2 linked regions of the Homo sapiens genome follow. The protein of the gene in region 1 interacts with the protein of each later gene in a biochemical or structural test. Each region holds a gene or a part of one and is shown on either strand. Other genes may lie near its edges.

The links.
Region 2: the proteins of CEP170 (region 1) and TNKS2 interact in a biophysical measurement, tested with the Homo sapiens proteins (one study listed by IntAct).

Annotation. Positions count from the first base shown.
Region 1 is NC_000001.11:243,253,185-243,257,102, forward strand, and holds the start of CEP170 (centrosomal protein of 170 kDa), read right to left. Parts: upstream 2,098-3,918; 5' UTR 1,856-2,097; exon of another isoform or gene 1-1,855. Other genes in the region: SDCCAG8 (serologically defined colon cancer antigen 8), read left to right, coding at 2,990-3,056.
Region 2 is NC_000010.11:91,801,205-91,805,122, forward strand, and holds part of TNKS2 (poly [ADP-ribose] polymerase tankyrase-2), read left to right. Parts: intron 1-3,918. UniProt on the Homo sapiens protein: Poly-ADP-ribosyltransferase involved in various processes such as Wnt signaling pathway, telomere length and vesicle trafficking.

The sequences.
Region 1 (3,918 bases):
CATGTAGTAAGTTACTTTATGAAAGTAAAGGTCCATTTTAGGAGGATTACTACTTTTACATCACAAAGGCAAGAACTAGATTAATCACGGTGAGAATCAAGTTCAGTGATAGTCACAGCCTACTCAGGGAGCACATAGAGAAGCTTTCCATACATTTTCACAAGGTAAAAGGGCTAGGGGGACACAGGAAAGATCACTCTGCAGAATGGACCTTGAGTTTCGTTTGGCTCTGCCTTCGATTAACTGTCTGGCTTGGGCAGACAAGTCAGTTAACTTTCTGAGTTTTAGTGTCTTCCTCTGTCAAGTGCACTTGGGCTCTTCCGTGTTATCTACAAAGTTAGGAAGAGCTAAAGGCAGCCCTAGTTTTACTTTTTAAAAAATAATAACAGAAAAATACATAAGTTGCTATTCATCAGTGTACTGTTTCCAGAGCTGAATTCCTAAGTCTCTGAAGCATACCCAGTTAGGGTTATACCAGTGAAGATCCAGATACTATAGTCATAATGTCACTCTCTCCTCTCCCATTATTCCTCCACCTGCTCCTCCCCATCCTGCTTTATTCTCTCTTCTGGTGTGTTTTAAGAAGCAACGCCAGCAAACGGCTGCATACATTGTAAGCTTAAGGATTAAATCATTTTAAAATATGCATTTTCAATCAAATGTATCATCTGCTTCGCCAAATTCCTCCCAAATGGCTGAATTTTCATTAAGAGAATAAAAATGAGTTAACAACTTCGGTAACAGAAATGTACTGGGCCAGTTGTTTTGTTTGTTTTACTTGCTTAAAAAATAAACGGAAAGATGTATCCATTCCCTCAGGAACATAAATGCATTACCTGCCCAATGAAAAAACAATTCTGCTTGTTCATTTCCCTGACACAACAGCTTCGTTGTCAGGCCCTCTCTAGCCCAGGCTCCAACGTCACCTAGTAATTTTATATTGATCACCTTGGCAGTGCTTGGACTCCAGCAGGCATAGTCCCTGTCTTCCTTACATTCCTCAAAATAAATAAATAAATAAATAAATAAATAAATAAAACTCTACGAAACACCACCGAACAGAGATTCTGTGACTTAGTATACAAATCCCACGTCTTCCCGCCCTGTGTTAGGCAGCTGCAAATGTTATTTTTTCATCGCTTGCATAAAATGGAAGCGAAACGTACCAAAACCCTACATCTGAATCCTAGGACAATGAAGCCGACAGGAAGCCACTCTCTCCTCCCCCGGGTTTACTACAGAGCCAGAGCCTCCACGGGGTGCAGTCGCCAGGCAGGGTGCATGACACCGCGTCTTCCACGCCCTCCCAACGCGTCCAAAAGGTTGCTCGCCTGACCTCGCCAACCGCCTCACACCCCAAAACCAATCACACAAAAGGGATTGGCCCGGGGAGCTGCTCCAATGGGGGAAAAATCCCTTCCCCAGCGGCAGCGCAGCCATTCCCTCCAATGCTCCGCCCGCACCCCTCGCAAACTGCTACGGCGGAGGGGGGAGGGCTGCACAAAGCCAGTCGAAAGCTGAAAATGATTCAATGCACTTAGGGGATGCGGAGGCGGCAGCAAGGGGCTCGGGAAAGCCGGGGGGCCGCAGGACTGGAGCTCCGGGGGGCGGCGGGTGGGGGATGGGAAGGGTGGTCCCGTCAAGCCCCGGGTCCCAGGCGGGCAGAGGGTGGGGGTGGCGGCGCCGCGCGGAGCACCCGGGAAGCGCCCCCTTCGCGGTCCAGCCCCGCACCCCCGCCCCGCGGCGGGCGGCGCCCGAGTCCTCGCCGCAAACCCGAGGAGCAGGATGTGGAAAGCAGCCGCGGCGGTGGCTGCGGCTGCGGCGCCTACACCGAGCAGCCGATCGCATCACTTACCCCTTACCGTGGAGAGAGGGACCGGACGGGGGAGGCGGGGCGCGTCGCGTCCCGTGAGTCTCTCGCACGCCGTCCTCCCCCCACCTCGTCGTCGTCGTCGTCGCCGCTGTTGTCGTCGCTGCCGCTGCGGTCGAGCTCCGGGGCCCTCAGCTCCGCTGGGCAATAACGTTATTCCACACACGCCCCACACATAGCGGTAACGGCAAAGACCGACTGCCTAGTGCGCAGGCGCCTCGGGAAAGGGCGAGGAGCCGGACCCTATCCCCTCCTGCCCAGTTCCAACGATCCCTTACTGCGCAGGCGCCACACACAGACAATGAAAAGGGGTTGTGCGAGGGTCTCACCCACACGCTTTTCCAGCTTGCCCACTGCGCAGGCGTGCCCCGAAAGACCAGCTTGAACAATGAAGAGGACCTCGGCGTTAGGTGGGACCGCAACCAACAAGGACTACAGTTCCCAGCGGGCAGAGCGCCAACTCCAAGTGAAGGTCCGGTTGCTGGGCATGCTAGGAGTTGTAGTGTCGGCCGCCTTTACAATCTAGGCTGTTTGGAAGATTTAGAGCTTCTATTTCTTGAAGATTTATTCGACCGTTTTAAAAAATCTCGCAACTGAAGCAGGGTTCAGAGTTTACTATCTGCGTCCTTGAGTAGCCTGGGGATCAACTGCTGCATATTAGCAAATTTCGAAGCGTCAAGGCCTTCAGTGAGCCCTTTCTGTCATTTGGGTGGTCCAGGCAGCTGAAGAGTGGGATGGAGGCGGGACTAAACCAGGCTGGGCTGGAGGAAAAGGGCGGGGCCTGCAAGCCTGTCTCTTGGCAGCAGGCTCTGGCAGCCAAACCGTCCAAGCTAGCGCCTGGAGCGCAGTGGTTTCTGGGAATTGTAGTGTAACTGGAAGGCCCTGAGGATTGTCGAGCTTGCAGGTTCTGAACGTGAGGACTACAACTCCCGACGTGCAAAGCGAGGGCCAGTGGGTGGGAAGAGCCCCCAAGAGCTCTGTGCGGGATTCTAGGCTCCCCTGTGACAGCCGCGGCAGGAAGCAGGCGGGCGCTCCCCGGCCACAGGCCTGTTGTTCTCGGAAGGGAGAAAGCTGGACATTTCCCCACGTAACTCCCAGCTCTGGGCCTAGAGTGCGTGCATGGCGAAGTCCCCGGAGAACTCTACCCTGGAGGAGATTCTGGGGCAGTATCAACGGAGTCTCCGGGGTGAGTTGCTCCAAACCTCTGTCCCTAGCCCCGAGGTGCCCAGGGCCTAGTGGGCGGGAGCAGACCAGGTGCGTTTCCTAACACCTGGGTTCTGCCCCGTCCACGCTACAGAGGAGCAAGATGGATGTTGCTGTGGTCTTGAGGAGGATGAAATAGTTTGATTTAGTTTTTACAGTTAAGCAACGATGTTTCCTCAGATTCCCGTAGTTACCTCAATCAACTCCTTGATCTTAACTTGGCATCTTTCTCAACCGGCGACAGCAGAAACTCTTGGATAGCTCTATGCCATTTTTGTTCAGTTCCCATACGTTGCTATTTAATCCAATAAAAGTCTGATTCACAGTTTTTACACATTTAAATTATGGCACAGTGGATTGAATGTGATTTATGGGATCAGTGGGGGGAAACACTAATAATTATTTTAATCACAAGAGCCCCCTTTTAATTGATTTAGGCTATTTACATACAGTAAATCATCTGCAGCTTACACCAATCGTGTGAATATTTTACACATGGGGAAAGCGAAGCTCAGAGAGGTTGAATTACAGGCCAGAGCCCACACAGCTGGTTAGTTGCAGAGCCAGGTATTATCAGGCTTGCCTTCAAAGCCTATGTTTGTATTTACTAATCAAGCCATAATTACTATTATCAAAACCTTATTAATTTAGATTTTCTTACCACATTACCATATGAGCAAGTATCTGTACAAATAATGTCTGTATTTATTTTCCTTTAAGCTCTGTTGGACTTAATGTCTGTACTTTTAGATGGCGCTGTCAACTTGGACAGCATATATAACATCTAGAAATTTCGATTCTGTTATAATGGAAGTTATGGAATTGTCCATAGGGTTATTGTGGGG
Region 2 (3,918 bases), on another chromosome or scaffold:
TCATCCCCAAAAGTTAGTTCAATTAAAAGAATAATCCGTTGCTAGCACCAAGAGAGTTAAATTCTGTTAATGAAGAAGATAGTCAACATAAACAGGAATTTTCCTTCTACTAGGTGTTTTTTTATTACTGAACTAGATTGCATACTTTTCTTCTAGATAAATATTATTTAAGAAGTAATTCCTTAGGAGAAAAATGACTCTGTAAATTGTTTCCTTTTCAGTCCGCCTGCCACTGCCCCCGACCATACGCAGATATACACAAGACAGGAATTTTTCTTTTTTTTTTTGAGATGGAGTCTAGTTCTGTCTCCCAGGCTGGAGTGCAGCGTCACGATCTCAGCTCACTGCAACCCCCACCTTCCGGGTTCGACCGATTCTCCTGTCTCAGCCTCCTAAGTAGCTGGGATTACAGGTGCGCACTGCCACGCCCGGCAAATTTTTGTATTTTTAGTAGAGACAGGGTTTCAACATGTTGGTCAGGCTGGTCTCAAACTCCTGATCTCGTGATCCGCCTGCCTCGGCCTCCCAAAGTGCTGGGATTACAGGCGTGAGCCACTGCGCCCGGCCAGGAATGATTTTTTTCCAACACAACAGAATTTGTAGAGGCAAGTTGGTGGTAGGGTGGCTGTTGCTCTAATTTTACTAAAAGCAAAAGTATCTGAAATTCTTGACAGTTAATGCCCTAGAAAACAGCAAATTTCAGTAAAGAAGACTCTGCTTCTGTGAACTTATTTCTAAAAAGTAAAGAAGAGGTGACACAAACTTGGGGAGAAAGTTATCTTGATGCCCATCATAGAAATGAAAGAAATATGTGGCATTCCTTACAATCTTAGAACTCTTGGAGTAGGGGTAGGAGCTTGCATTGTAGAGTCCTAGCTAAACAAGGTAACACTTATTTTATATTTATAGTATGTTATGTTACTGTTAGTATGAGTATGCTACTGAACCACATACATAGGACCAGTTAGACCGGACTTGGATTATTATATTCAATTGTGTGAATCAAATATAAGAGGGGATTTTTTTATTCAGAGGAGGAAAGTGGAATCAGAGCATCCAGAATTTATTGCACAAGCATAGATACGAAAATTAGTGCTGCTTATTCTAGAGATGAAAGAAGACTATACCATGTTATCGTCTTCACATATGTGGAAGAATCACAAAGAGTGAGTGGATATTACTTGTGTGGCTTTGGGAGTCAAAACTAAGGCCAGCAGGTGGAAGGTTACAAGGGGTCAGACAACCTTTAACAATATTCAGCGATCGAACTGTCTGGAAGTATCCAAGCAGTGGCTGGATTGGCATTTTTCAGAGATGTTGTAGAGAGGATTTCAGCCTAGTTCGACCAACAGGTTATAATCTCACTAGTACAAGAAAGTGGGATGATTCCTCCAATTGAAGGCTTTAGCTGCTCAGCTACCAAAGATATACTAGCTTTTGTGATTGCCATTCATATCTTTTCCCAAAATGATAACCATTGGAGACCTCCAATAACCTCTCAGTAACATTTTCTTCTTTGGCTGTAGGCCAACATCATAGTTACAAGAGATGCACAAAATTTATCCAACACTCTTCACCTAGAACTACAGTTATAGATTGTTGTTTTCAGGATTGGTTTTTGCTATGGGAGATAAATCATACATCAGCAGGAAACCCTAGTGTCAAATAAAGATCAGTCTATTTAGGAATTCATCATCTTTCTTGACTTATCAAATCTCCCAATGTATTATCAAGACTTTGAGCTATACCTTTGCCCTCAGCGCTTGCTGGATTTGGAGGTAGACAGTTGACTTCAATAACAAGAGTTTGGAGTACTCCTTTCAGTGTACCCCCATTCAGATGGTCAAAATTTCATCACCGTAGAGGCCATGGCGTTCTTTTCCAAGTTTCTACTAATCTGGCCAGACAGTATGTCTATCCCAAGTTGAGATGGGCAAAGTCCTCTCCCTTGTATTCTTCGTTCTTAAGAAGTATATGTGGGAAATAATTTTCTGGATCTTAGCAAACTAAAGTTAATAGTAAATGAGGCCCGGGCACAGTGCCACAGGCTATAATCCCAGCACTCTGGGAGGCAAAGGCAGGAGTATCACCTGAACTCAAGAGTTCAAGACCAGCCTGGGCAACAATGGTGACACCTCATCTCTACAAGAAAATAGAAAAATGAGCCGGGCATGGTGGCACAGAACTGACACTCTGGGAGGCAAAGACAGGAGTATCACTTGAGCTTAAGAGTTCAAGAGCAGCCTGGGCAACATGGCGAAACCCCATCTCTACAAAAAAATAGAAAAAGTAGCCAGGCATGGTGGTGCAGGCCTGTAGTCCTAGCTACTTGGGAGGCTAAGGTTAGAGGATTACTTGAGCCAAGGCTGCAGTGAGCCGAGATTGCGCCATTGCACTCTAGGCTGGGCAACAGAGGGAAACCTTGTAACACAAAATAGTAAATGAGAAGTTTAAAATGACATTCCTCAGAAAAAATGTGTCACTGAGAGTCCTGGCTAAAGGTTGCTTGAAAGCTGAAGGCTGTTTGATTATACCTTCCAATCTCCCAGACTACAGGAGCTTTGTTTTGTGGCATTTGTTGACATTTTTCCAGAACTTTGCCTTTGGACAAAACCCTGTGTGATAGCCTACCTTTAGATATTGCAAGACATCACCATCTCATATGGGACCAATTGTGTTATCAGTGATTAATCCCACCTTTGGACTATGAAAGACAGGAGGGGGATAGCATTTAGTTAAACTTCCTAAGAGTCTAAGTTGGTTTCTCTGTAGGAACTTGACTGCCTCACAGCTTTTGGGAAACCATTCAGATGAAAGCATGTTTCCAGTGTAGCAGCAAAATGTGATATTATTAACAATAGTCATAGTTAGCAAGCAGTACCTGGAGTTGCTGAAACTGATGGCATCTAGATAAGTAATAAATTTGACAAGAGGCTGCTTTTCTCTGTTTTCACAAATCATTAACACCATATTCTTTGTGAGGATCCTTTCCTATTCCAGCAGAGTATTAGACATGCATTAAACAAATGTTTGTCAAGTCCTGCTATATGCCAGACACTGACCTTGTCCCTGAGTAAACTGAAATGAACAGGACACAATACCTGCCATTAACTGACACATGGTTAATGTGGTCAACAAGTATACTTTACAGATAGGCCTGCTTTGCTTCACTGTAAGTACTATATAGTAGATTCATACTCTGTGTATGGTTTCATCAGAATTTTCACAAGTAGAACAGTGTTTGAAGTTGAGTGCTGTTCCATAATTACAAAATAAACTACAGTGTGTCCTGAGCAGCCATGACTACCAACTTTATTTAGGCTTCTGGTTCCTCATAAAGAGATCCTTAGAATATGGAGATTTACATTGACTCTGATGATATGCCTATTCATGTTCTACCTGGCCAGTGAGAACATGATCAGAATATACCCTGCAGAGCATTTTTTCTTCCAGAAATTGGTGCTTAACAGAAGTACTTTGAACTATTCTTGAGACCATAACAATAGAGATTTTATCAAGGATTACTCCTCAGTTTGGGAAGTATGGTTTTTTGGGGGTTGTGGGGGTGAGGCACAGAGTTTCACTCTTGTCGCCCAGGCTGGAGTGCAGTGGTGCGATCTTGGCTCACTTCAACCTCCACCTCCCAGGTTCAAGCAATTCTCCTGCCTCCTGCTTCAGCCTCCCGAGTAGCTGGGATTACAGGTATGTACCACCACGCCTGGCTAATTTTTATATTTTTAGTAGAAACAGGGTTTCACCATGTTGGCTATGGTGGTCTCGAATTCCTGACCTCAGGTGATCCACCCACCTCTGTCTCCCAAAGTGCTGGGATTACAGGTGTGAGCCACAGTGCCCAGCCAGGAAGTATCTTCAATCTAAAGATTTCGCCAAACTCCAAGCAACTTTTTTTTTTTTTTT